4 linked regions of the Homo sapiens genome follow. The protein of the gene in region 1 interacts with the protein of each later gene in a biochemical or structural test. Each region holds a gene or a part of one and is shown in the gene's direction. Other genes may lie near its edges. The genes, in order: LHX3, NFIC, NFIA and RLIM.

Region 1 (6,898 bases):
CCAGAGCGTCCGTCCACCTGGTGCACTGGGCCCCAGGCCTGCCCTTCCAGAGAGCTTGCATCACAGCTTGGACGGGAAACTCCAGAGTCTGGATGGGCCCGGGGCCCACAAGGAGGTGGGCGGGGCCGCACCCTTCCTCGGGGTTGACTTCTCCAGCCTGGACATGAGTCTCTGTGTCGTGCTGTACGTGGCTTCATCCCTGTTCCTCATGGTGATGTACTTCTTCTTCCGGGTGAGGTCCAGGCGGTGGAAGGTCAAGCACCACCACCCGGCCGTGTGAGTGCCCGGGTGCTGCCAGCCACGGCGGAAGCTCCCTTGGAGGCAGCCCTGCCCCGTGCCACCTGCAGCTTTAATATTTATGATCAGGGATTTTATAAACATGCGGGCCTGGTTTCACATCGGATGGCACCTTTTGGCTTCAAAGTCCTGGTTTTACAAACGCTCTTCTAACAAGGGAAGAACACGGGGTAATTTTGTGGGGATATTTGCATTCCTGGCGTACTCAAGTCTGTTCATGCTCCTTTTGCAGGTCTTACAGCAAAAAGACTTCTGTATTTTTACTCTTCTAGATGTGAAAAGAGGGTGCAGAGTCCAGGCCAGATAGTCTTCCCCACACACTTTCATCTCGTTTCCTCCACTCCGCCCCATCCTGCAGGGCCTTGTTTTTGTATTTGGAGAACCTCGCCCATCCCCCCCGCGGCTCCTGGCTCCCCCCCACTCCCCTCGCTCCCCCTCCCCCCGCTCCCCCCACGCCCCCTGCTCCAGGCTGCCAAGTGTTTTCCTTTAGCCGGGCGGGGACAGACAGAGCCGGAAGCGCAGTCGGCCTCTGCAGCCCCTCCAAGCAAGTGCTCCAGGGACTATCCTGTGTTTGTAGCTGCTTCCCTAGGGCAGGTTCCTGAGGGCTCTCCTTGTTCCTCCGGGTGTTCGACACCAGACGTGGGGATTTCAACAGGGGAGGAGCCAAGGAATTCTGTGGCTGTGCTGCGTTTCAGAAAATAACCCCCAGAGGCCTTGGGCTGTGGACCTGGGGGTTGGAAGGATGGGGGCTCATTTAACCCTCAGAGGCAGCGCCTTTGTCTGTCTATCTGGTGACAAGAGAGAGACAAGTAAATGGGGGCCGTTGGGACGGCGGGTGCCTGGAGGGCAGCTCTGGGCTCAGCGGGCAGTGCTTAGAGCACAGGCCCCTCTGTTGGGGGATGGGGAGGAGAGCAGTCTGCCCTTGGGAGCGTAGGCCCCAGGGAGACTTCTAAAGCCCCCCCTGTCGTCTGCTCTTCACCCAGCACCACAGAGGCACCTGCTGCACACACAAGCATCTCACTCGGCCCACGGAGGGGGCCAGGCTTCCTTTGCCTGAAGCTGTTTTGGGAAGGGTCTCCACACAGGCACTGATCTCCCAAGCTTTTGTCATGATGTCTTTTACCATTTGATAATTTTAAACATTGTTTTTAAACCCAAAACATTTAGTGGTCCGTTGCCTCTGAAGATGTAAACAAACAAATACACTATTTCTGGGAACATTTATATTGAGATTCTTTGTGGCTATTGGTGTGTCTCACAGGCAAAATTTGATTTGGCTAAAATAGGCTCAGATGTATTTGTGTGCCCGTGTGTGTGTGTGTGTGTGTGTGTGTGTGTGTGTGTGTATGAGAGAGAGAGAGACTTTGACGGTTGTAGATATTTTTTCCGCTTTGCCTACTTTATGTTGTATAATCATGTGTTTACTAACAAGTTGATGACATGGATGTATTCATAAGACCATGTAATATTGATGTGATTGTTGTCGCTTGAGAAAAAAAGGCAACAGCTGATTCTTTCAACAACTGTCACAGAATGGCTGGGCTGAGAACGCTGCCCAGGGCCCTGCAGCTGGCGGGAGAGGTGTCTGGTGGGAGCGGTGTCTGGTGCGTCAGCCTGCTGCTTCGTGTCTCACTCGAGAGTTGCTTCTGGTTTCACACTTTTTAACCCCTCTGTGCTTTAGCAGCCGTGACCTTGCCTTCATTGCTTCATCCAGTGCAGGCCTGGGTTATTGAAGACACCAAAGTGTTTCTCTTCCAGTTTGAAAACCAGGCAGGTTTACACGTGGGTTTCAGTGTATTTGCCTTTGAACCCTTCAAACTAAACTTTAGCCTTTTGGCTGGTGTTGAATGTCTTTAGCTGGGGTGACCTGGAGTGACCTGGGACGGTGTTGTGGTTTACCGTCTCCAGCTTCAGCCTTTCCAGAAACCCTTGTGGAGGGCAGTGTTGGCTGCAGGTTTCATCATATTGCAGTTTGAGGTCACCACTATTTGGGGAACAAGCTTGCGTCCTGCTGAGGGGCAGGATTTTCAGCAGAGCGTCGGTGGGGCTGGGCCGTCGTGGAGGTGGCCCCAGGAGTCATATGGCCATACTCAGACACACCTTGTGTGGCCTGCTCAGAGCTGGATGCCACCTTTAGGCAATGTTTAGAGTCTATTTTCTAAAGTTTTAAGTATTTTAAGAGGTATTGAGACTAATGAATATAATAGTTCAGTAATTTAAATGCTTATTTATTTTCAGTGGAAGGATTTTTATTAAAAAGAAGCTAATTGACATGGAAATGTCAGTGAAATTTCTTACCTGCAAGGAAAGTGAACATTTTGTATTTAAGTAAACTATAATGTGCACATTTTAATAAAGAAATCTGACATTTGAAAAAATGGTGATTCTTTTGAAATGTGAACCAGCTCTACCAGTGGGAGTTGTGGTAGAGGCGGTGGGTGCAGAATGGACCCCTCTTTTGTTCACGTACTGGACATCTGAAATCCTAGAGTTTCTCCTATCGAATCATTGGCTTTTGGGACACAGCCCAAGGGTCGGATGGAAAGTAGAAGATGGAAAGCAGTGATAGATCATCTCCCTGGAGCTGATCTGGACGAGACTCACAGGACAAGACCCTTGATTTTACACAGGTTAAAGGGCAGCTGAGATGCATGTCAGCTACACACTTCAAAGAGCACGCGCGGCAGCCCAGCCTGAGGGCACCTCAGAGGACCCCCAGCTTGCTTGAGTGGCCATCCCTCTGCTTCCTGGGTGTGAGTGTCCTGCTAAGGCTGTTTGTGGTGTTCTGTGGGGTGCCCTTGACCCCGTGTTGTCTTCTGCCCCTCCCCTACTTTTGCTGTGCCAGTGGGGGCAGGGCAGTGGTCAACAGTCTTGCCTGTGGCTGTGGAGGAAGCCGGTTGGCACCTCCCTGGCCAGGCTGTGCAGAGGCTGGCAGTAACTCAGTCACTCGTCAGGCACCGAGCAGACACCAGCCTGGGTGTGTACTGGGCGATTCCTTCAGGCCCTGCCTATGCCCAAGGTCTTGAGTCCTCAGCAGTGCTTTTGTTACAGGGGACTGCAGGTGCCTCTCCTCCTGGCAGCCCGGAGGGGTGCGGGCTGAGCTCCTCCCAGAAGTTGGGGGTTGAGTTCAAGGAGGTTAAGAGTGGAAAGTTCCCTGACCAGCAAAACACCTGCAGGAGAGTGCCCCAGTGAGCCCTGGGCTGGAGTTGATCACGCATGGGGCTGCCCCGGGGCACGGCCTGGGCACTGCCTTCCAGAGGCTGCACGCCAGAAGGGTAGGGTCAGTGTCCTCCTGCCCTGCGGCTGGACGACCCGCTTGCTGCGAAACTCGGCGAATCCCAGCGCCTCAGCAGGGCCTGGAGCTTAGGGAGGAGCGGGCACGGCCACCCTGGGTCTCAGAGGGGTGAGGGCGGGGGCTGCCTTGAGTGCGGCCCAACCCAGCCAGGGAGGGAGGCGCGCCCGACACGGGGCAGAGGCGGGGGTGGGGACCGGGGCGACGAGAGGGGCCCCGGGAGGTGGGCGGGCGCGCGGGCGGGGCGGGCAGCGGGCGCCTCCTTCAGCACCGCGGACAGCGCCAGGCCCAGTGGCTCCCGGGCTCCCTGCCCCGCACGACGCGGCGGGACTTGGGAGCCCCGAACCCTCCAGGGGACGCTGACCTAGGAGGAGCGCGTCTCGCGCCACTCGGCCTGGTGGCCGCGATGCTGCTGGAAACGGGGCTCGAGCGCGACCGAGCGAGGCCCGGGGCCGCCGCCGTCTGCACCTTGGGCGGGACTCGGGGTAAGCCCCAGCAGGACACTGAGGACAGAAACGGCAAGGGCGGCAGAGGCGCGAGGAAGGGGGTGCGTGCAGGGCCAGCGGCCAGGCAAAGAAAGTCCCGCCGCTCTGCAGGCGGGACACAGAGATGGAAACTGCAGAGAGTGAGTTTCCAGATCCCAGGGTGGCGGGGAGGGCCTGACGCTGGCCTGCAAGAGTGCGGGACAGCGGTTGGAGTGGAGGCCCCTAGAAAAAAAGGGGGCATCGCAGGCACAGCTGGGGGGCGATGGGGCCGACCAAGGGGTGCTAGGTTCCCCCGGTGACCAGTGCCCGTCAGCTCTTGCACACAGCCCGGCCCAGGTCTCTGGACCCCACAGCAGGGGACCCAAGCCTGTGTCTCCCGCCTGAACCACCCTCCCCAAGGGCCATTCCATCACCACGGACGCTGGGAAATAATGGAGGCATTGTTGGAGGGCTGGCCAGATGCCAGCAGGGTGGGCCGCCTCCTTAACCTGCCGCCGCCCCTTCCCCAGTCCTGCCACACACGACCCCTGATCGCTTCGGCAGCAGCTGACACTCAGCCACCTGCACCCAGCACAGCCCGCACACACTCGGCTTTGCACCCGCGTGTCCTTGCCCTGGCCCTTCTTGGGTAACAAGTGCTGTGCAAAGTGAAGGGGCAGAAAGCTGGCTGCATGGGCCACTGCTCAAAACGGACACATCGGACCTGCTGGGAGCTAGGAGGGAGGGACTGTGGTTTCTTGTGCCCATCCTTCTGGGCCTGGGCCCTTAAAGCTCACAGTCCAGAAGCCATAGGCAGAGTGGACAGAGTATTGCTGTGAGACCCACAGGGAGAGGGACCTGCAGGATGGCATCAGCCCCTGGTCCCCCAACCCTTCCTGTGTGTTTCTGCGCACTGCCAGGGCACCCCTGCCTTTGCCAAGTCCTGTGCTGCCGAGGGCCACCCACTGCTGTGTTCTTCCCCGGGTGGCTGCCCAGGGCTGGTGCTGGCCCAGGGCCCTCTGGGCAGGGGTGGGTGCGTCCCTCTGCCTGCAAGGACAGGTGGGTTCTGGAGAGCTCACCTGTGTGGACTGGGGCAAGAGGCTGAAATATCAGGTAAGGGACCGTGTTCCAATGGAGCCGGAGTGCTGGGGGCTGGAAATGGAAGGTGTGCCCTGGGGCTTCCCCAGCTCGGCCCCTCACGACCCGAGGTCTTGGCTGCGTGTCCAGGACACAGAGCCTGTTCTCTCTCAAGGATTGCCCTTCCTCCCTGAGCCGTCCGGGGCCGCAGTTCCAGGGGTGGAGCCCAGAAGCCTGTTAGCATCTGGGATCGGTCCGGCACCTTGCGGTTCCGGTACGCAGCCCTCGGCGCCACACTCACCCCTTCTGCGTTTCGGGTTGAGCTCCCGCCGACCATCTGCTGCTCCCGAGGCCAAACCTCAGCGGCGGGAGGACCCTGCTGCCTTCTCGACCCCTCTCCCGGGAACCTTAGCCCTCCTGGCGTGTGCTCCAGCTCAGGCCTCTGCCTCTGGGCCGCTCCGGCGCAGGAAGCTGCGGGGCCGGGACGAACGCTGGCGGGAAGCCCTGACCTGGGCCCTCCCTTACCGGTGCCCGCCCTCGGGCCGGGCACGCGGGGCGGCCTCTGGGCACCGCAGGTCCCGGCGCAAAGGCGCTCAGAGTCCGCAGTGGCCCGGGCTGGTCTCCGCGACCCCCGGCCCCGCCCCGCCCCGCGGCCCCGCCCCCCGGCCGCTCCGCCCTCCGCTCGGCCAGAGGCTCCGGGCCCCAGGGCGGCCCGCGGGCGCAGCGCCCAGCAGCACCCGGAGTCGCTTGGACGCCGGTTCGGGGCTATTGCGGGGTGGCGTCGCTGGGCCCGGGAAAGTTCGGGACTGGAGAGTGGCGACGCCGGGCGGCGGGACCCATGGAGGCGCGCGGGGAGCTGGGCCCGGCCCGGGAGTCGGCGGGAGGCGACCTGCTGCTAGCACTGCTGGCGCGGAGGGCGGACCTGCGCCGAGGTGGGTGCCCGGGCCGAGTGGCTGCACCGGGGAGACCAGGAGATCCTCAGGCCTTTCCGGGCCTGGCCGCGGAGGCTGGCAGGAGCTAGAGGATCTGGGCGGGAGTGGGCGCGAGGACCCCGGAACGTCCGCGCCTGGGCGCCTCAGCCTGTATTTGTTGCAGGGCCCCTGGCCTGGGTTGTCAGGGAGTGAGTGAGGTTGTGGCACTGCGCTGCTCCGGCCAGGGAGCTCTCGGGGGTCCAGGGTGGGCTTAGGAGACCTCTGCAGCCCGGAGCCAGCTCCCTGGGCTGGAGGAGGCGCAGGGAGCAGTGGCGGGGCAGTGACCACGGGACAGGAGGGTCCCCAAGAAGGCCGCCCCAGCCGGACTCTTTCCACGTTCCAGCGGAACAGAGTCAGATGCAGGGGCCAAGGTCGAGCTGAACTCCGACCGTCGGTCTCCCCGAAGTCAGGTTTCAGCGTCTGCGCCCACAGACACCCGCTCGGTTTATCCCCGCTCAGGGCCCGTCTGTAGGAAAAAGCCTCTCTTCTCCAGGCCCCCCAGCTTCCTGGTGGCACCACTCTAGCTCCCAGCACTTTGGTTCTTAGGGAACCTGGGCAGTTCTCCTCGACTCCCGGGCCAGCTGGAGCCGCAGGATGGGGAAGGAGGCCCCGGAGCCAGTGGGGAGTGAGAGGGACCGGCCGGCGGGAAGGGGGTTACATCCAGGCTGTGGGGGCTCGCGGTTCCCTACTTATTTATTTATTTTTCGACGGTTCCTGGGAGGGGTTGGCCGCGGGGGCTGGGGGGCGGAGAGAGGGAGGGAGGAAGGAGGACTGCGCGCCCGCGCTCGGGAGAGCTG
Region 2 (7,025 bases), on another chromosome or scaffold:
TGCAATGGCACGATCTTGGCTGACTACAACCTCCGCCCCCTGGATTCAGACGATTCTGCTGCCTCAGCCTCCCGAGTAGCTGGGATTACAGGCACGTGCCACCACGCCTGGCTAATTTTTGTATTTTTAGTAGAGACAGGGTTTCACCATGTTGGCCAGGCTGGTCTCGAACCCCTGACCTCAGGTGATCCACCCACCTTGGTCTCCCAAAGTACTGGGATTACAGGCATGAGCCACCGAGCCCAGCCTCTTGTTTACTTTTTAAAAACATTCTCAAGGCCATGTGCAGTGGCTCATGCCTATAATCCCAGCACTTTGGGAGGCCAAAGCAAACGAATAAGCTGAGGTCAGGAGTTTGAGACCAGCCTGGCCAACATGGAGAAACCCCGTTTCTACCAAAAATACAAAAATTAGCTGGGTGTGATGGCGCATGCGTGTAATCCTAGCTACTCGGGAGGCTGAGGCAAGAAAATCACTTGAACCCGGGAGGCAGAGGTTGCAGTGAGCCAAGATCGTGCCACTGCACTCCAGCCTGGTGACAAGAGCGTGACGCTGTCTCAAAAAATCAACAAAAAACCTCTTTATAAAGTGAACAAGGCAGCTGATGTGGTGGCTCATGTCTGTAATCCTAGCACTTTGGGAGGAAGGAGTTCAAGGCCAGCCTGGTCTACATGGCGAAACCCCACCTCTACAAAAAAAAAAAAAAAACTAGTCAGATGTGGTGGAACATACCTGTGGTCCCAGCTACTCGGGAGGCTGAGGTGGGAGGATCACTTGAGCCCAGGAGATGGAGGCTGCAGTGAGCTATGATGGCACCACTGCACTCCAGCCTGGGCAACGGAGCAAGACCCTGTCTCAAAATAAAATAATAAATTGGCTGGCCACAGTGGCTCACGCCTGTAATCCCAGCACTTTGGGAGGCCAAGGTGGGCGGATCACTTGAGGCCAGGAATTCAAGACCAGCCCGGCCAACATGGCGAAACCCGGTCTCTACTAAGAATACAAAAATTAGCTGGGTGTGGTGGGGCGGGCCTGTAATCCCAGCTACTTGGGAGGCTAAGGCACAAGGATCACTTGAACCCAGGAAGCGGAGGTTGTAGAGAGCCAAGATCACACCACTGCATTCCAGCCTGGGCAACAGAGCAAGACTCTGTCTCATAAATAAATAATAAATAGAGAAGAAAATAATTTTTAAAATATAAAATAAAGGCCAGGCAGAGTGGCTCACGCCTGTAATCCCAGCACTTTGGGAGGCCGAGGCGGGCGGATCACGAGGTCAAGAGAGTGAGACCATCCTGGCCAACATGGTGAAACCCTGTCTCTACTAAAAATATAAAAATTAGCTGAGTGTGGTGGCATGCGCCTGTAATCCCAGCTACTCGGGAGGCTGAGGCAGGAGAATCACTTGAACCTGGGAGGCAGAGGTTGCAATGAGCCGAGATCATGCCACTGCACTCCAGCCTGGCAACAGAGCGAGACTCTGTCTCAATAAATAAATAAATAATATAATATAATAAAGTAAGATTGAGTTCCAGACTGGGAGTGCTGGCTCACACCTGTAATTCCAGCACTTTGGGAGGCCGAGGAAGGTGGATCACTTGAGGTCAGGCGTTTGAGACCAGCCTGGCCAACATGGTGAAACCCCATCTCTACTAAAAATACAAAAATTATCCAGGTGTGGCGGTGGACGCCTGTAATCCCAGCTACTCGGGAGGCTGAGGTAGGAGAATTGCTTGAACCCAGGAGGCAGAGGTTGTAGTGAGCCAATATCACGCCATTGCACTCCAGCCTGGGCAACAAGAGCGAAACTCCATCTCAAAAAATAAAATAATAAATAAAATATAAAATACAGTTCCAGATAAATGGATCTTTTGTGTGTGGTGTGTAAGTATATCCCCAATGTTGCGTGGGCTAGACTTATACTAAAAGAATTCTGTGTTAACCAGAACTCCAGTTTCACTGGGCATCCTGTACTGTGTCTGGAAGCCTCCCTCAGAGACAAAGTCACTTGCCATGGGTCACCCAGCAGGTTGTTAGAGCCTGGGATGGGGAAACTGAGGTCACAGGGTTGCAGGAGGTGGGGGGTGAGCGTGGGAAGAGGTAAACCATGTCTGCAGCAGAGTCTGACCCCTCGACTTCTCTCCCTTTTTCTCTCTCCCTCTTTCTGTCGCCACTGGGCCACTCAGTCCTGGTATCTGGGATAGCAAAGGTCTTCTTCCCTCGCCCCTTCTCCATCGTCCCAGGAATCCCAGGGGGCAGCACAGCCGGCCCCCGGCCCACGTTTTCGGTGGAAAATTAGAGTGAACAAGAACACCCCTGCCGACTCCCAGCCCGGCCAAAAAGACAAAACACATAGACGCACACACTCAGGAGGAAAAGAAAAAACAAAGGCAGAAGAAGAAGAAGAAGAAATAAAAACCCACCCAAGCAAGAAGACAAAAGGTAAAGACGCAACGTTTCCAACTCTCGGGACGCCAAGGCCGCAGGACTGGAGGGCCAGGCCCCGCCACCCCCACGGGAGACCCGGGACAGGGCGTCTTCCTAAGTTATTCATCTCCTCTCCGCCTGCTGCTCGGGAAGGACAGACGCCGGCCGCCCGCCCGCGCCCCGGAGGCCCTGGCTCTGTCCGGAGACCAGGTGAGCACAGCCTGGAGCCTGTGCCCAGGGCCGACAGGCGCGACACCCAGCAAGGCCACCTCTCCCCGGGCCCCCGCGCCTCTGCCGGACACGGACCGGCCCCTCAGCCCCCACCGAGGACGCAGCCACTGGGGGGAAAGGGAGACACAGCGGACCCCGGCCGGGCAGCGGAGACCGCAGAGGCGGGCAGGGTGGGGCAGGCGAGTGGTGTCGCGGGGGTGCGTGGCGCTTGCGAGCCCTGGCCAGGGGAGGAAGTGAGGCCCAGGCACCTGCTGCCCCTCGAGGGGGCCCTGCCTGCCGCGGGGCCTCCCCACAAGCCCCTCCCAAAGCGCCGGCCGACTCGCTGTCTCGCTGGGGACTCTTTCAGCCCTCGCGCCCGCCCGTTTGGGAGGAGAAGTCTCTATGCAATTGGCCCCGGCCCCTCCACCCCCCACCCCCGGCATAGGAGGCCCCCCCACCTCGCCCGGCTCACACCCCCAAAGGGAGGGACCCACATTGCACACACTGTAAGAAATGCACTTTCCGAGGAAGGGGATGGGGGAGCCCGGACACCCAGAGCTCCCCGAGTTGGGGGTGCCCGTCTGGAGCGCCCCCGTCAGCCCCTGGCGGTGGGAGGTGAGAGCGAGTGGTTTAAGTGCCTGATTACCACCACCCGCCCCCCCCTTTGTCCAGCTGGGACACGGAATGGCCGCGGGCCTCCTCCCCCTCCCCTCCAGCCTCTCCACCAGCCCCTCCAGTCAACCCTCATCGCCGTGCCCCCCCAGAGCTAGAGAGATGGGGCCCCTGCGTGGCCCGAGGGGCAGAGCTGGGCGTCACTTCGCAAGCGTCCTGCCCTGCCGGGGCGCGGGGGTGGGCTCTGGGGAAGCCGGTGCGCCCCCCACGCCTCCGCTGCCAGTGCCTTACATTCTGGAGCGACCCCCCTCCCTGGTGCCTCCCAGCGAAGGGGGACCGCCGTTTGCACTTTCATCGCCTACCCCGACGCGGGGCCCAGCTGCGGGACGTGCATCACGGCTGGGCCCCCAGAGGAGAGAGGAGGCCGACGCCAGCGGTCCCCGCTCGGAACGGGGAGGGTTTTCGGGGGGTTCGGCGTCGCACCTTGGGGCCCCCCGCAGCCGTGTAGGGGGCCTCCCATCTGCTAAGCGTTTTTCCGTTGAGCCGCTCCAAAAACACTAAGCTGGGGACGCCAGGTGCCCCCCCACCCCGGCTCCCTGGCCCTATCCACACCTCCACCCCCACCCCAGGATCGCCATCTTTAGGGGAGGCCTGGGAGGGGGTGTTAGGTGTTTTAGGGCCACCGAGCTCAAACACAAGGACCCCTCCCCGGCCCACCCAGCCCAGCCCCAACTGACCTCCATGCCTAGGGAAAAACTCCCCCCACCACTGCCCCCTCCCCCGACCCAGGCCAAAGCCAGGGCAGGTCTCCGGGTCTCACCTGCTCCTAGCCTCACCCCCCTGCCCCCGAAAACCAGACTCTCCTCCCAAACTAGCCTCAGGAGCTTGGCGAACCCGCTCGCTCCTAAAGAGAAAGACCCAGGACCCTCCCCCATCACCCCCAAGAGAGGTTCGCCATCCTCTGGCCTCGAGCCCTTGGTCCCTCCGTCCGTCTGTCCTCGGGGCCCGCTCCCCCGGTGGCCCTTGGGGATCAAAGCGTGGGCCGCTCTCCGGGAGGGCGGGCGGGGGAGGGGGTGGTCGGGTTGTGCCATTGGGGTGTCCGGAAGCTTCTCAGCCAGGGTGGGGGTCGTGGAGTGGGGGAGGGAGGCCAGCCGGGCTCCAGAGGGGTCAGGGCGCGACGAGAACCAACTCTTTACCTAACTTTGCATGGTGCTTAGTCAAGGACTCCTGCGACCTGGCTCCCGAGGTCAGCTGGCGGCGCTGACACACATGCATGGCAGACTATCCCTGGCTCTATCTCCCTGTTCCTCGCCCCCTCCACCCCCCACTTCCTCTTTAAAAAAAAAAAAAAAAAAAAAAAGATACAAGAAAAACCTTTAAAAAAATTCCATGTTTCCTAATTTGCACGAAATTTTCTACCACAAGATGTGCCTTGCCTTCCGAGAATAAGTATTACCTTTAAACAATATCAGCGCACACACATAGCTGCATGTTCTGCTCGTGTAGTTTAAAAAAAAAAAGACAAAACAGTGACATGAAATAAAAAATAAAAATTGAAAAGGGATGTATTTCTATTTGTAAAAAAAATAAAATAAAAAATAAGAAAGTGAGAATCTAAAAAAAAAAAAAAAAAAAAAAAAGGAAGAAAAACCACGCTAAAAATCAAGCCACTGAAAACAATTGCCCCCAGGTCTACCCAGCCCCTGGCTGTCCTTGGTCCTGTCTCCCCTCCTGCTGTATTCAGGGGTGCCCCCTGGTGCTCAGCCTCTACCACCCCCAACCCTGCTCTTGGGTACCCAGAGGGGTCATTTCTGAATCCCTTGCCCAGAGGACAGACCTCCGGGGCCCATCTTGGCCCTGGGAAAGGGCTCTCCTCTCTGATTGGTCCCTAGGCCACGGGCCGGCCCCCAGACACCATTCACCGACCCACTGCAGGCTGTCCTCCAACCATGGGGTGGCCACTCCACCCGCAGCCAGACTCCCCGCTCCCCACTTTTCATGCAGGCTGGCATACCCCTGGCTCAGGGTCAAATGCTGTTCCACACCCACCTCAGAGGCACCCCCTCTCCCCTGCCCCGTGCATCCCCACCCTTCTTGCCAAAGGACCTCTTTTCCCCTATCCAGAGACCACCCCAGGTGGCATTCTCTCCCACCTTCTCCTTTGTCCCCCATCCCCTGTCTCTGTCTTCCAGCTGTGAATATGAAGGGTATCCTGTATGAAACAAAAACAAAACCTGATATATGCAATATCTGTCTGTCTGTCTGTACCCATGGGCCTGGCTCAGCCATTGGAGGCCCAGCCGAGGGTCCGGCAGGGCACAGGGACAGCCAGGTGGCACCGAGTCACAGGCTGTGGTCCGGTGGCTGAGCATGCTGTTGTCTTGTCCTTGATTTTATTTTCTTTTGTTCTTTTTTTTTTTCTTTTCTTTTTGTTTTTAACTCCAGCTTCCTTTGCTTTTTACTTGACCAAAGCTAAGACAATAGCCAGATGGTTAGTGGGGCAGCCAGGCAGGGAGGACCCAGGGCTGGGATTCTCCAACCTTAGGCCATTCCTGCAGCCCTCACCACCTCCAGCCCCTCCAAGCATCTCGTGTAGGGACCCACGCAGATGGTCCCATTCATTCACTATTGCCCCCAACCCCGGGATTTTGGGTGGTCTCCACAGCCACCATCATACACTCATCCCGTGTTTTCTTCCAAAAAGTCACCTCAGCAGCCTCCCCAGGCGATACAGAGGGAGAGCCCAGACCACCACAGCTGGCCACGACATTGCCCTTAAGTAATATGCATTGGCCAGAGAGCCCGGGCTGGCTGTGCACAGCATTCATGTAGCTGATTTCTAGCTTTTTTTTTTTTTCTGCCCCACTCCTGAGCAAATCTGTCTTGCCAAGGAACTAGGAGCAACCGGAGGCAAAGGGAGTGGGTGGCCCCATCACTATTGGGACCATCGCGTCCCTGCACAGCCCACACCCGGGGGCCCAGAGTCCTGGGCTGGACGCCACCCTTCTCACCCCGAGCTTGCCTCCTTGGCTCACTTGGCACCTTGGCTGAGTACAGCAGGCAAAAGCCCATACCAGGCAGCATGTTGTGGATGGTTTAGTTCTCCCCGCCTCCCTGTTTCTTGGAAAAGCTACAGGGTCCCTGTAGGGCAAAATTCCCAGGCGCCTTGCTGCAGACAGAGTAAGACAAAAACACCAGGAAGCAGGATTCCGTGCCCATCTCTGCAGTTTGGGTTCACAAAAGGGGGTGCCGTCATCCCTGGGTGGAGGAGGGAGTGTTGGTTTTTTGTTTTTGTTTTTTTAACATGTATGAAACTGACATCTTCTCAAATCTTGTTCCACCCCCCTCTGGAAGCCCCCATCACCCACCCCTGCTATGGACACCACACCTATGCCAGGCCCCCCCCCCCACCCCAGTCTCATTCTGGGGTCTGCCCATGCTGTGGGAAAGAATAGGGAGGCCTCCCAAATATATGCAAATTGTCCCCATTCCGTGGGGGCACCTGACAATGACCCGGGTGGAGATGGGGCATGGAGGAGTAGGAAGACCCAGCCCTATTTGACTGGGGAGAGGAGGATCTGGAGTCCTTCATGCCCAGGTCTGGAACCCAGGTTCTGACCCCAGGGCCCCACCCTGGGCTGGACAATCAGATCCCAAAGGAATGCCAAAGGGGACTCGGTTGGGAGAGCCGCTTAGGGGCCAGACCTGGGTCCCCCTGCAGGTCCCCAGGCAGCAGACAATTCCACCTTCCCTGCCCCAGGACCTTGAGAGACAGC
Region 3 (7,205 bases), on another chromosome or scaffold:
TTGTTATTAACTTTGCATTAGCTATTATTTTTATGCTCAGGGAAGCTGGTAACTTGTGGAATGTGAAGTTCAACTTTAAGAAACGTGTGGCTTAAATCTTGCCTGAATTGTGGGACTGTAGTGAGCTTTGGGAAGTAATATATTGCGTATTCAGCATTACAAAACTTCTTACTCTGATTATCTTAGAAGCTTTGGCATTTCAAGTACTTTGAAATTAATAGGTAAACCTCTCTTCTTGAACTCTAAACAACAGTTTTAAAGGAGAGAATGTTTCACATGTGGACTAGCAGCTGTCTTACACACTTGAAAGAAATTAGGGGAGTGTTTTTTCTTGGCTATTCTTGAATTCTGCTTTTTAAGTATATGGTCAGTAGGAAATAGGACGTTAAGACTGGCCAAGTTCACGTTTCTCCTTGTTACCACAACAACCCCCGTGGAGAGTGTATGGAAGATCGCTGACTTGCTAACTGTTAGTTGGAGTCTGGCCTCTTGGACAAGTGCTTGATACAAATCCAGTGGAAACCAACTGCAGTAGCTTGTCTTGGAGACAGTAACTGGCAGCCTCTGACTAAAATATCTCCATCTCCTCCTCTCTGAGCAGCGTAGACACCCAATTCTGTTGGGAAGTGAATGGAAAATAATATGGGCTCTTTCCCTTCTTTGGATTAAATTCCCATCGAGCTATTTCCCAAGGCTTTAGGCCTTCCAGTCAAATCTGGCTTGGAAATTTGATGTAAGAATTCACTTGGACACTCACTTCAGCAACATGATTCAATTTAGGATTATATGCACATAAGAAAAATCTGCACAGAAGTGACCAGCAGGTCAAAAACCAGAGAAGAAAAAATGTTGAAAAATGCCAGTTAATAAAGTTAGTTTTGGTAAGAACTACAGAGTTATGGTGTTGTCGCTTATGAATCCCAGTCCTATCTTCACTGCTTTGGGTATTAAAATCTAAATCATATTAATAAGATCTCCCTATTAAGTAACCTCCAAAATGAGAGCTATTTGAGATGTACATATAAGTGAAACCTTATTGACGTAATTTATATATCTAAGAGGATTTCACTAAAGCTGGCAAGGTAACGTTTCTGCAAATAAAACACAGTAAATGCAAGGCTGGGCTCTGTGCCAGGAAGAATATGGATAGCAGAGAGCATGACAGGAGCCTCCTTTGCGCAGAGACAATCCCATTTCAAGGCAGCCTCCTACCACTTGGAAAATAAATGATTGGAGAGGTTATTTCCAATAAGGGGTTTATCCTTCCTAACAATGGGTCATTTATATGATTGCAGTGAACTAGTTTCCATACTTCACCTGCGTTTCCTCCACTGCTCTCTCTACTATCCTTTCTTTCTTCCCTCCTCCTCCATCCCTGCTCTCTCTCAAGTGCCTTAGTATCTTTGTGAACTCTGGACAAGGATTTACTTTTGCAACTTGGGAAGAGGGGAGAGGGTTGGAAATGTTTTTTACCCCCAGTCTGCCCTTTGAGGAACATCTGTTTCTTTGTGCGTGTGTTTAAATTTATGCCTGTTGGAGAGAAAGTTACCAGAAGCCTTTCTGTAACTGTAACTCTTCTACTGTATTTTTCTCAGTCTTGTTTCCAAAGGCTGTAGTTGGAACTGTGCTTTGTAGTGTTCCCCCGCCTCCCCCCCTCCCTCCGCGGGGGAGGGAGCGGGAGCTGGCGGAGATAGGAGAGAAAGCAGGAGCGGATGTGAAGGGCTTTGGTGCTGAACTTGGATCCAGCCCTTGCCTAGAGGGCGCAAACAATCGTCCCATATCCAAAAGTCTTACGAAGGGCGCCAAAAGTTACTTAAGATAATATTGCTAACCGCAGAAAGCTGGAAATCGCGGGGCACATCCACTGCTGCAACAAAAGAAGTTTTTAAAGTAGAAATATCAGCATTAAATTACTTCCCCCATTAAAAAAAAAAAACAGGGCGACATGCCAGTCCTTTTTAAAAAAAATCTTTTTTTTCCTTGAGACTCAAAAGTAAGAATCTTTGCCGTTTTGAAAATAGGCAGATGTGAAGTGTATCTTTTAATACACCAAAAGAAAGATTTTAATCTGCTCTGGAAGAGAGCTTCCCGAGTACACACTCTGAACAATAACTTTTCACTGTGCCTCAGTTACATGTTGGGACCGTCAGCCAGAAACTTCTATCGAGGAAACTTGGAGCGCATTGAAGTTATAGATCCCAGCAAAGGTTCTCGTGGCCAGGGATGTTGTCTCTGTAACACAGCTTGGCTTTTAGGACATTCCTCCCCTACTAAAATCTGAGAGGAACCAAGGAAAAGCAGTGGGTTAAGTTTGGGAAAATGGACTCTCTCATTAAAGGCTGAAATCATTATTTCTCCTCACTCCTTAGTAAATAATCTTGAGAGATTTCCAAGGATGTTCAGGAGGGAGGGTGGGAGAGAGAATGGTTCTTGAGCATTCGGGAATTATTTTGGCAATAAAGTAACTAAAGTACAAGCATAAAATAACTTTAGACAGATGCAGAATTATTTCAGAGGTTCTCTTTTGCTCTTTCTCCAGTACAGTATTTCCTGCCCCTTGCTTTGAAAAGAAGTCTGAATGAGAGTGGCCTTAACACATCACTCACCCTCACTTGTTAACACATCACTTACCCTCACTTTCCTACAGGAATGTCCCCTCTTTAGAGACTCTCTGGTTATGTCACCTCCACCGAAGGGCAGATTCCCCTGTGTGCCAGTGTCTTTCAACATGATACCTACCTCTTTCCTTTTGGAATTTTGAGAAGGGTTGTCAAATGCAGCATTTTGCAAACCATCATGAGGAAGAGAAGTAAAATAAGGGATGGGGGCTTAGAAGAGGCAGGTAGGCTTTCCCCCCTCCGAGAGAGGAGAGCCTAGAGAGAAAATATGAGGTTAAAAAAAAAAAACTGGAAAAGCAGGCTTACTGGCAACTTGCCAAACCCTAAAAACCACCCCCCTCTTTTCTGCCAAAACAATACTTTAGCAAACCTAAAATAATTGCAGGAAGCTCTTTTCCATTTTAAGAACTATTACCTGGGGGAGGGAAAAAAGGGATTCTTAAAAGGCACCCTTCCAGAGGTGTCCCAGAAACTGGGACGGTAATGATAGCCTATGTCCAGTTCTGGGCACGCGTTTGTGGATCAGAATATCTCCCTTCCCTAAGGGGACATCCCTTTCACATATTTTTTTCCTCCTAAAAAGTAAAAGATGTCACAGCTAAACCACTGTTGTTTCTGAACGTGATAGAACTTTTTCTATGGCGTCTGTGTTCAAACCCACTAGTTTCACAGTCCTGGGAGGGATAACGCTCATTAATCTCCGCCTTCTTTTCTCCAGACCCCCGCCCCCCAAATCCGGTGAATCTTCTGTGGGCACTGATTCCTCACCACCCCCGCTTCTGAATGCCACAGGACCGAAGCTGCACAAAGTTTGCAGGATTGTGTGCATAATTACCTCTGCCGACGAATCTATTCCCACAGAAAGCTTCGCTGGAGAGATTACAATGCTTTGAGCCTTACCGCATTTCAGTGGGGGAAAAAAAGTTACCTAGGAGGTCTGATTTTTCAAAGAAATTTGCATACATGCAAATGTGCCGCCCGGCCTCCTCCTCGGTTCTCTACGTGCCCACGCGGTGGCCCGGGGGGTGCGGGGCAACCTGGCAAAGTTGCCCAAGTCCTCCACCGAGGTCCGCGGAGGTCTGCAGCGGGGGTGGGGGGATGGGGACGAGGAAAAGTAGTTTTGTTTGCTTAAGCACATCCTGTGGCAGCCTATAGCTGCCCGGGAGTACAGACTGTAACTGCTCCTCACTGCGTTACCCAGTAATGCGCTGATCGGGGGAGGGGGCGGGGGGGCCGGGGAGCGAGCGGGAGAGCGAGCAAGCGAGCGAGCAAGGAGCGAGCCACGGAGAGAGCCGGGGAGCGAGCGAGCCAGCCTGCGAGCGCGAGCGGCCGCGGAGGCTCGGGACCCGGCTGGCCGCGCGGCGCCGCAGCCGCCCCCTCCCCCACACCCCCTCCCCCCCGCGGCGGCGGCGCGAGCGGGCGGCGGCTGTGCGGTGCGGTGCAGAGCGGAGGCGGAGGCGGGCGCGCGGGCAGCTCGCGGGCACCCGGCCGGGCCGGCGCGGGAGCGGGAAAGGGTGCGCTATGCCTTTAACACCCGCGTACAGTAGGCATGTATAGTGGAGTGTAGGGAAACTCTAGGCGGGGTTAAAGTTCAGCTCATGGAGCGGCAATAGCGCTGGCTGGCTGGCTGCAGTTGAGCCGACTTGGAAATGTGAACGCAAGAAGCAGGCTTGATTTTTTTTTCTCCCCCCTTCTCTCTCTCTCTCTCTCTCTCTCTTCCTCTCTCCCTCTTTCTCCTCTCTCACCCACACTCACGCACACCTCCAAACCGCACACCCAGACGCACACGCATACCCCAGCGCCCGGCAGTTATGTATTCTCCGCTCTGTCTCACCCAGGTAAGCCGCGGCGTGGATGCGGAGGGCTTGGGGGCCGGGGCGCCGGGGGCAGGGCTGGGGCTGGGTGGGGGGCACCGGGGCCGTCGCTCCGGCCGGGCCCAGGGCGTGCGTCTCGGTGTGTGTCTGTGTCTGCGCGTGTTTCTGTGTGTGTGCGCGCGTGTGCCCGCGGGTGGGGGGGGGGATCCCGCTTAAAGAAAGTAACTTTGTTTCCATGCGGGTGCATTCCTCTTGCACGGCCATTTGTGTGGGCACATGGCTAATGGCGCCCTCTTATTAATGCGTTAATTAATATCGGGGCGACGGACTGCGGAACAGCAGTGTTTTCGGACACCCCGCACGTGTTTCGGCGGGGTTGCAGTCCATGACACGCAGAAATCTGGCTCAGCGTTTCTGCTGCCGGGAGCAGGGATTCCGTAGTGCCGCAGCGCCCGGGGAGGGGGCCGCCGACGGAGCCCACCGCTCACCCCGCACGCTCGGGCCGGCTGCAGTCCTCGGGTGCGGGGAGACCTCGGGTGCCTGCGCCCAACGGCCCGCTCCCCGCAGCCTGCGCTGCCGCAGCCCCCCGCCGTCTTCCCGAACTCTTACTTTTGTTTATTGTTTGTCAGCCTTCGGGGTCCGGCCGCGGAAAGGACGCGGGCTCCCGTCCCGGCCCCGGCCCGGACAGCGCCCCTCGGACGCGGGCAGGCTGCGGCTAGCCCTCGGCTGAGCGGGGCTACGTGGACGCGCGTTCCCCCGCGCCGGCCGGGTGGAGCCTGCGTCCTCGCCGCGCGCCGGTGGCCCGTTGGCTCTCCCGGAGTGAAAGTTTCGGGGCCGAGACGAGCCCACGTTGTGCAGGGCGCCGAACGCCGGAGGCCGCGGGCCGCGGGCCGGGTAGCGCCGGGCAGAGTTGGGCTCCTAGCCGGGAGCCGGAGCGGCGGCCCGGGCCGGACACGGCTCCCCCCGCCGCCGCCGCCGCCACCACCACCACCGCCACCGCGCGACTCCGGCCGCTCCGCGCGCAGGACGGGGGCAACTTTTCCCCTCCGACTCAACTCAGAGCATGGGGCTCTTGCGCCCCACCGCCTCTCCTTTCCGTGCCCCCCTGTCCATTCCTCCCTTGTCTACCCACCCCCAGGCAAAATATTGCTACTTCGAGACTTCAAATCCGGTCCCCTTTGAATATGTTATTTGTTTTCCTTGACTAAAAGGCTTGAAGTCAAAGTGGTTTTGCGCTATTTTTTTTTTAAGCGTGAGATTTCATACTGCTTTGGTACATTAGGATCTGACCATTAATCACCTACATGAAGTTATATGCTTCACATAAAATGTTTATTCACCTCTCCCTTAAAAAACCTACCACTTCTTGCCTTCATTTAGTAGGAGATAACGGTTTAACCGGAATAGTTTCTGGAAGGCTAAAAAGTATCAGTAGTTTTCGCTCTCCTCTCTAGATTCTGGATTTATTTCCCACATGACATCCCTTCTTATTGCAATATCTAACAGTAATAATACCGGGTATTTGATCTCAGAAGACTCTTAAACGCATCTTTTATGTTGAAATGGTCTGTTTGGGATTTAGGCCTAGCATTAATAATGGATAGCAGTTACTTTTAGTTACTGTAAAAGTTTTTTTTTTTTTTCCTAACAAACTTCCAAAGTTCCTATTTTAGTAACTTGTGGAAGTATGGAATGAAACTTTTCCAACCACTTCTGGCAAGGTTCACAATTGCATATGGATAAGATGCAAAGTGTAAGATAATTTGAATGAATTACGGACTATAGTGAAAATGCTGAGATTCGAAGGCTGAAGTTCTAGCTGGCAGAAGTTTGCAACACACAGAACTTGTAGATAATATCAGCGAGCTGCAATAAAGGGAAAGGACCCTAACAGATACATTAGTGTCTTCTCAATTGAGCTCTGAAAAGATAAATTTATATTTGGGAATGGTGCATATATGAGGGCACCTGTATATCCATGCAGGCCTAGGGCACAGTCAGGTATTTAACAAAGTTGGCCTCTGTTGGTTCATGAGGTATTATGACATTAAGAGAGTTTTTTTTTTTCTTTTTTTTTCGGCTTACATATTCAGCAGCGTTGATTGATGCATTCACTAGGCCTTCTTCTGGAAACACCACTAAGAGAAATGCTTATTTAGTGTAACAGTTTGTAAAGAAAATGTACAATAAATAGTGAATGAGGGCTCATATTTTATGGGTTCTGCTTTTAAAAATTTATTTACAATTTATTTAACTTGCTGGGATATTTATAATGTTTTAGAGCCAGTTTTAGGAAGAAGAACTTCGGTAGTTTATTGCTCATTAAAAAAAATCAGTAAGCACAGTGATTTCTATCACTATACTCTAAATGAAACTCCATTTAACTTGTAGGCAATTTAAAAAAAAACTTTACCAAGAAAAACCTAGACATCTTATTTTAATCAAATATGGGCATATAATCAAATCAGGTACTGTCCATATAATGATAACCCAGCAGAAATTTGTAGGTGAACTTTTAAAAAAAGTAGTTTCCAGAAATATCAGCATTCAGTGGTTCTTAAACTTGGCTCACTTTCAAACAGATCAATGTTTAAGATGCTGATTCAAAGTAATACCACTTTTGAAACAGGTTTTCAGGTTTGTTTTTATTGGTGGCCTATAACTTTCTCACTGAGTACATATGTAAAACGTTCTTTTTTTCCTCTTGAATGTTATGAAATAGTACCTAGCTTATAGCGATATGTTCAGCAACATGAATTATAAGGGCACACTA
Region 4 (7,025 bases), on another chromosome or scaffold:
CATTTTCATAAACTTTGTAAATTTGTCCAACTAGGTCTTTTTCCATTCCATATATATTTTTACCATTCCAGTAGTAACATATCTTATTATGAGATTCTGCTTCAGGTTTTGCTGAATTAGTTTTCTCAACTTTGAAAATATTCTCACCTATGATTATTTCATGTAGACTACACATAGGGGCTACTTCTGCAGTTCAAACTCCTTGAATAATCAACACTTGGCTCTTTGAATAAACAATAACTTAAGTAGTATCAGTTACATTTGTCAACAAATCAAGAGCCAAAGAGAAAACCACTCCATCATTTACCTTATTTTTCAGTTGATTAGTGACATTGCTTTTCAATATTCCCAGCTTTTTGGACCACTATACTTACCAAAAGTCCAATATTATGTTTATTTTCTCTGGACACATTTCTTCAGCTTCTGCACTCAAACATAATTTCACTAACTCACCATCAATAAACAGCTTTCCTCGTTTAGCCAATAAATGAGCCCCTGGGAAATTTACTTTGATTGAAGCCTCATTTTTATTTTTGTGAAGAAATATTTTGTGATGAGATTTCACTTTAAATTTTCTAACTTTTTGAACTGTAGTTTTCCTGTGAATTGGGAATATTGTCACTAGTGTTTAATAGTGTCAGTATATATTGTATTTAGTATATAGTATTTTTTGCATAATCATGCATTCTTTGCCATCTAATCTGATTTTTGAAAAACCCATCCTCTGCTGCACCTTTAAGCGTGACATTCAGAGTCCACTTTTCTCTTTGTTTGAGATGATGAGTGTATACTCAGTTTTTTTTAATGTCCAGTGTGAAGGCACTTGAAATGCTGTCATTATAGCTACATCACTGCAACTTAAGAGTGCACAGAGCAGCAGTCCAAAGCAATGGGAGTGCCACATACAGTCTGTCACAACTGCTCAACTCTGCCATTATAGCACAGAAGCAGCCATAGATAACATGTAAATGAATGTGTATGGCTGCGTTCCAATAAAACTTTATGAACACTAAAATGTGAATTTCATTGCATTTTCATATGTCACAAGATAGTCTCTAAAAACCATTCTTAGGTTGCAAGGAGAATAAAAATATGCAGCACGAGGCTGGGTGCGGTGGCTCATGCCTGTAATCCCAGCACTTTGGGAGGCTGAGGAGGGCAGGTCACTTGAGCTCAGGAGGTTGAGACCAGATTGGGCCAACATGGTGAAACCCTGTCTCTACTAAAAATACAAAAATTAGCTGGGCGTGGTGGCAGGTGCCTGTCGTCCCAGCTACTTCGGGAGGCTGAGGCAGAGAATCACTTGAACCCAGGAGGTGGAGGTTGCAGTGAGCTGAGATCGCACCACTACACTCTAGCCTGGTTGAGAGAGCGAGACTCCATCTCAAAAAACAAAAAATACCACAGTATGGCTGGATTTGGCCCAAGGGCTTTAGTTCGCCAACCCTGTCTGGTTCAAGGGCTGTAGTTTGCCAACCCTTGACCTACTCTTAATATAACAGTGCTTTTCAGGAGTTTTTGTTAGGAAATTTCATTTGAGGTCTGAAAATCCATCTCTAGACCTACATTCTGGATTTTCACATAATTAAAACTTGTATAGAATACATAGTGACCTTTATTTTCAAGATTAGTCTCTTTTCTCTTTTCAGGTATTTTCCACTTGTTCATCAATATGGAAAACTCAGATTCCAATGACAAAGGAAGTGGTGATCAGTCTGCAGCACAGCGCAGAAGTCAGATGGACCGATTGGATCGAGAAGAAGCTTTCTATCAATTTGTAAATAACCTGAGTGAAGAAGATTATAGGCTTATGAGAGATAACAATTTGCTAGGCACCCCAGGTATGCTTACATATATTTAAGGATTTATAAGTGTAAGTTGCTGGTTTAAAAAAAAATGCTTGAACCTGTTTTAAAAATCCATTTCTTTAGCCCTTATGAAATATTATTTAACATAGGGGATATGGAATGACATTTATTGCTGTATTTATTACCTGATTATATTTACTGATGTTTGGAATTACACTATATCAGAGAGATTTTTAACTTATGAATTATGAATTTTTAGCGAACTGAATTGAAAAGAATGGAGCTAAATCTTTTTTTTCTTAGTTAGCTTTATCTAACTTACTAGATAAGAATCCGAGTGTGGAATAGCTAATGGGAACTTAGTTTTTAGGAAAGACTTATTCTGTTATCTCTGATTTTCTGAATATGTCCCAGTTGTAATCCTCCAGAGCTAGCCTTGGGTAACATAGCAATTAGAAGTTTGTGCTTAATTATCTTTTACCCCACTAAGTCCCATTTGATCCTAGTTAAAAGTCAGTATCTGTCTTCCTCTTCATTTCTGTTTAATTCTACTTACCTTTGAGTAATTGCTTAGATTTTAAAAGGTAAGGTTTTAGCATGACTTTTAAGAGAGGGAGTGTGTTTTTAGCCAACAATACCAGGCTTGAATCAGAATGCTTTAGGTGGAGTTCTGGCCCTGCTGTTTGGTGTGGCTCCTGGCAAGCCAGTCTGTCGCTCAGTCTGTTTCTTAATTTTAAAATGCAGATAACAATATCCTCCTCTCAAAGCTGCAATTCTTAAAAATTACTTACTTATTTATTTTTGAGACAGGGTCTCATGTTGCCCAGGCTGGACTCAAGGGATTCTTCCGCCTGAGTCTCCCAACGAGCTGGCACTACAGATGTGGTACCACTGTGCGCCCAGCTTAGAATTGCCTTTGCCTTTTTTTTTTTTTTTTTTTTTTTAAGCAGAGTCTTGCACTTTCGCCCAGGCTGGAGTGCAGTGGTGCAGTCTCTGCTCACTGCAACCTCTGCCTCCTGGGCTCAAGCGATTCTCCTGCCTCAGTCTCCTAAGCAGCTGGGATTACAGGCACCTGCCACCATGTCTGGCTAATTTTTGTATTTTTAGTAGAGATGGGGTTTCATCATGTTGGCCAGGCTGGTCTCGAACTCCTGACCTCCGGTGATCCACCCGCCTCGGCCTCCCAAAGTGCTGGGAGTACAGGCGTGAGCCAAAGTTAGATGTTATATGCAAAAGAACTTTGTAAATTGCTTTTAATATGTTTCCAAAGAAGTGAATTTTTCCCAGGACCTACCTACTCCTTGGTTTTTCTTTTTGGTTTGAAAAAGTTTTCTCTTTTAAAAATATGATTTTTTTTCTAATCATCTTGTGTCAGATTACTGTGAGTCACTGATAAAGTATTTGATTGTCATACCCCTAATGTCATCTTTGCCCTGTGGTGTTAAATTTCAGGTGAAAGTACTGAGGAAGAGTTGCTGAGACGACTACAGCAAATTAAAGAAGGCCCACCACCGCAAAACTCAGATGAAAATAGAGGTATGTTTTGGTTTTGGTGGGGAGGTGGATAGACGATGGGATGATAGGAACTTTGTAATAGTAAATGTCAGCCAAAGATTATCCAGATTTGGCACAAATTAATTTGGTGCTAAGTAACTGCTCATAAAAAGAAAACTGACATTTTCTTGATACTTAGAATGTCAGCATTTTTTTTCTACCTCACCTTTGAGATGTTTATGTTAATTGGAACACAGTGAGAAATGGCCCATTTAAATGTGATTTTGTTTGTTTGTTTGTTTTTCACCTCCATTGAAATTTATTCCTACTTAATTCCTTCTTTATAAACATGTGACTTCTTCACCAGCAAAAAGAAATGTCTAAACCCAGTGGTTCCTAATGAGATATAATTTTGCCCCATGTGGGACATTAGCAACGTCTGGAGACATTTGTGTAGAGGGCAGGAATGCTGCCAAACATCCTGACATGCCATAATGCACAACACAGCCCCCATGACACAGAATTAACTGGCTTAAAATGTCAGTAGTACCACTGTTGAGAAATCCTGCTCTAACCTCAGGTCTGGTGTTTCCCTCCCAGTGTCAAGTAGGGATTTTGATTGTGCAACCTGAGAGGCTACGATAATAATTTGGTTCTTGAACATGCCATTATATGTGCTATGCAAGGTTCAGACTACTTATTTGATCTGATCTTTAACTTCATGTCCATTGAAAACCTTGGTAACATTAAGAAATATTCAAATGCTTTTAAACCTATAAATCTTGTTTGTATTTTTCTTATGGCTACAATAAATAGTCCTGTATTTTAAAACAACCTCAAATGTTATCAAAGGCACAGTATGTAGACTAATAAAAATTTGACAGAAATGTAGCTTGAACTAAATGTGACTGTTCGTTAAACACTGTTTCCTTACCTAGTTTGATTACATTAGTATTTTGGCAGAGGACTGAAAAAACGTCTTCTGACCATCCCACAGTGGTATGCTTGGCTCTGTATATGATAAAATACTGAAAATAGACTTCCTCCAGATTCCCTTTAAAAATCAAATAATTCTCTAAATTTCTCTAGTGTAGCTTGCTCTTTTCAAATGGAATTAGAATTTTCTTACCTTATAAATTTATGCAGTATAGTTTGTAAAAATCTGTAATTATGAAATGTGTTCCGAATTTTTAAGTTATTTAATGCAGAGTTTCAGAGCACTTATATGATTGTCCTCATTTTAGTAGTTCCTTTTTCTCCCTCTCCCCCTCCTTTGTTTTGAACAGGAGGAGACTCTTCAGATGATGTGTCTAATGGTGACTCTATAATAGACTGGCTTAACTCTGTCAGACAAACTGGAAATACAACAAGAAGTGGGCAAAGAGGAAACCAATCTTGGAGAGCAGTGAGTCGGACTAATCCAAACAGTGGTGATTTCAGATTCAGTTTAGAGATAAATGTTAACCGTAATAATGGGAGCCAAAATTCAGAGAATGAAAATGAGCCATCTGCAAGACGTTCTAGTGGAGAAAATGTGGAAAACAACAGCCAAAGGCAAGTGGAAAACCCACGATCTGAATCAACATCTGCAAGGCCATCTAGATCAGAACGAAATTCAACTGAAGCGTTAACAGAGGTCCCACCTACCAGAGGTCAGAGGAGGGCAAGAAGCAGGAGCCCAGACCATCGGAGAACCAGAGCAAGAGCTGAAAGAAGTAGGTCACCTCTGCATCCAATGAGTGAAATTCCACGAAGATCTCATCATAGTATCTCATCTCAGACTTTTGAACATCCTTTGGTAAATGAGACGGAGGGAAGTTCTAGAACCCGGCACCATGTGACATTGAGGCAGCAAATATCTGGGCCTGAGTTGCTAAGTAGAGGTCTTTTTGCAGCTTCTGGAACAAGAAATGCTTCTCAAGGAGCAGGTTCTTCAGACACAGCTGCCAGTGGTGAATCTACAGGATCAGGACAGAGACCTCCAACCATAGTCCTTGATCTTCAAGTAAGAAGAGTTCGTCCTGGAGAATATCGGCAGAGAGATAGCATAGCCAGCAGAACTCGGTCTAGGTCTCAGACACCAAACAACACTGTCACCTATGAAAGTGAACGAGGAGGTTTTAGGCGTACATTTTCACGTTCTGAGCGGGCAGGTGTGAGAACCTATGTCAGTACCATCAGAATTCCCATTCGTAGAATCTTAAATACTGGTTTAAGTGAGACTACATCTGTTGCAATTCAGACCATGTTAAGGCAGATAATGACAGGTTTTGGTGAGTTAAGCTATTTTATGTACAGTGATAGCGACTCAGAGCCTACTGGCTCAGTCTCAAATCGAAATATGGAAAGGGCAGAGTCACGGAGTGGAAGAGGAGGTTCTGGTGGTGGTAGTAGTTCTGGTTCCAGTTCGAGTTCCAGTTCCAGTTCGAGTTCCAGTTCCAGTTCAAGTTCCAGTTCCAGTCCTAGTTCCAGTTCCGGTGGTGAAAGTTCAGAAACTAGCTCAGATTTATTTGAAGGCAGTAATGAAGGAAGCTCATCATCAGGCTCATCAGGTGCCAGGCGAGAGGGTCGACATAGGGCCCCAGTCACATTTGATGAAAGTGGCTCTTTGCCCTTCCTTAGCCTGGCTCAGTTTTTCCTCTTAAATGAGGATGATGATGACCAACCTAGAGGACTCACCAAAGAACAGATTGACAACTTGGCAATGAGAAGTTTTGGTGAAAATGATGCATTAAAAACCTGTAGTGTTTGCATTACAGAATATACAGAAGGCAACAAACTTCGTAAACTACCTTGTTCCCATGAGTACCATGTCCACTGCATCGATCGCTGGTTATCTGAGAATTCTACCTGTCCTATTTGTCGCAGAGCAGTCTTAGCTTCTGGTAACAGAGAAAGTGTTGTGTAATTAAGATCTGAACTCTCAGCTATGTAGCTGATATAGTGATGGGCAAACAGGAATCACTTGCTTTTATGTCCACTTTTTGAGTGGTACTTAAATGTAAAGTAACAACCTGAATTGAGTCATTGCTTTCTGAAGGAATCATTGTCCTTTCTCCAGTTTTTGTTCCAGAATAAAAGGAAATATTTTAAAAGCCACGTTATAGGACCTAAAAATCTGATTTCCGTACCAGTTAAATTGGTAGCATCACTGTTACTGATAATTTATCATATACACTTGTCAATTTTTCCTTTGTTATCTTAAAAGATCTGCCTTAGCAATGGCTCCTTTTTCATGTTGATCTTTAAATTTTCCCACACCATAAGAGAGGAGCAAAGGAAATTACCAGTTTAGACTAAGTTACAGTATGTGTTTCATAAGTGATTAAAGCTATATCATTCCCAGTTATTAGTTAACACAAATTCAGCCACATTCTGAGTATTGTTTGTTCACCTTTCAGACTTGGTGATACTGGACATGTCAGTGTAAATAACACTAAGGTTAGGATCTTCTAAGTGTATAACTGTCTCCTAAGCCCATCACTGTGGCACACTGTAGAGTGAGCTTATAGTTTAATTGAGATATTTATCTTGTGGAAATATTAAAAAGCCTATGCTTGTGTAAGTGAAAAAAAATCACATTCATTTGTTTAAAAATGTAAAGCTATTTTGTAGAGGCTCAGTACTTTTCCAATGCACTGTTGTATGAATGCATTAAAAATTGTAAAGTACCATGCTTAGAACTGAGAAAACTGCTTTTTGTGAGCCAACATAGTAACAAAC

Evidence for each region.
Region 2: the proteins of LHX3 (region 1) and NFIC form a complex in vitro, tested with the Homo sapiens proteins (one study listed by BioGRID).
Region 3: the proteins of LHX3 (region 1) and NFIA form a complex in vitro, tested with the Homo sapiens proteins (one study listed by BioGRID).
Region 4: the proteins of LHX3 (region 1) and RLIM form a complex in vitro, tested with the Homo sapiens proteins (2 studies listed by BioGRID).

What each region holds. Positions count from the first base shown.
Region 1 is NC_000009.12:136,202,110-136,209,007, reverse strand, and holds the start of LHX3 (LIM/homeobox protein Lhx3), read left to right. Parts: upstream 1-3,879; 5' UTR 3,880-3,995; coding exon 3,996-4,074; intron 4,075-5,818; exon of another isoform or gene 5,819-5,968; coding exon of another isoform or gene 5,969-6,062; intron 6,063-6,898. Other genes in the region: QSOX2 (sulfhydryl oxidase 2 precursor), read left to right, coding at 1-280. UniProt on the Homo sapiens protein: Transcription factor.
Region 2 is NC_000019.10:3,460,566-3,467,590, forward strand, and holds part of NFIC (nuclear factor 1 C-type), read left to right. Parts: intron 1-2,186; coding exon 2,187-2,204; 3' UTR 2,205-7,025.
Region 3 is NC_000001.11:61,078,363-61,085,567, forward strand, and holds the start of NFIA (nuclear factor 1 A-type), read left to right. Parts: upstream 1-4,198; 5' UTR 4,199-4,398; coding exon of another isoform or gene 4,399-4,429; coding exon 4,430-4,456; intron 4,457-7,205.
Region 4 is NC_000023.11:74,590,625-74,597,649, reverse strand, and holds part of RLIM (E3 ubiquitin-protein ligase RLIM), read left to right. Parts: intron 1-1,649; 5' UTR 1,650-1,672; coding exon 1,673-1,841; intron 1,842-3,260; coding exon 3,261-3,344; intron 3,345-4,588; coding exon 4,589-6,210; 3' UTR 6,211-7,025. UniProt on the Homo sapiens protein: E3 ubiquitin-protein ligase.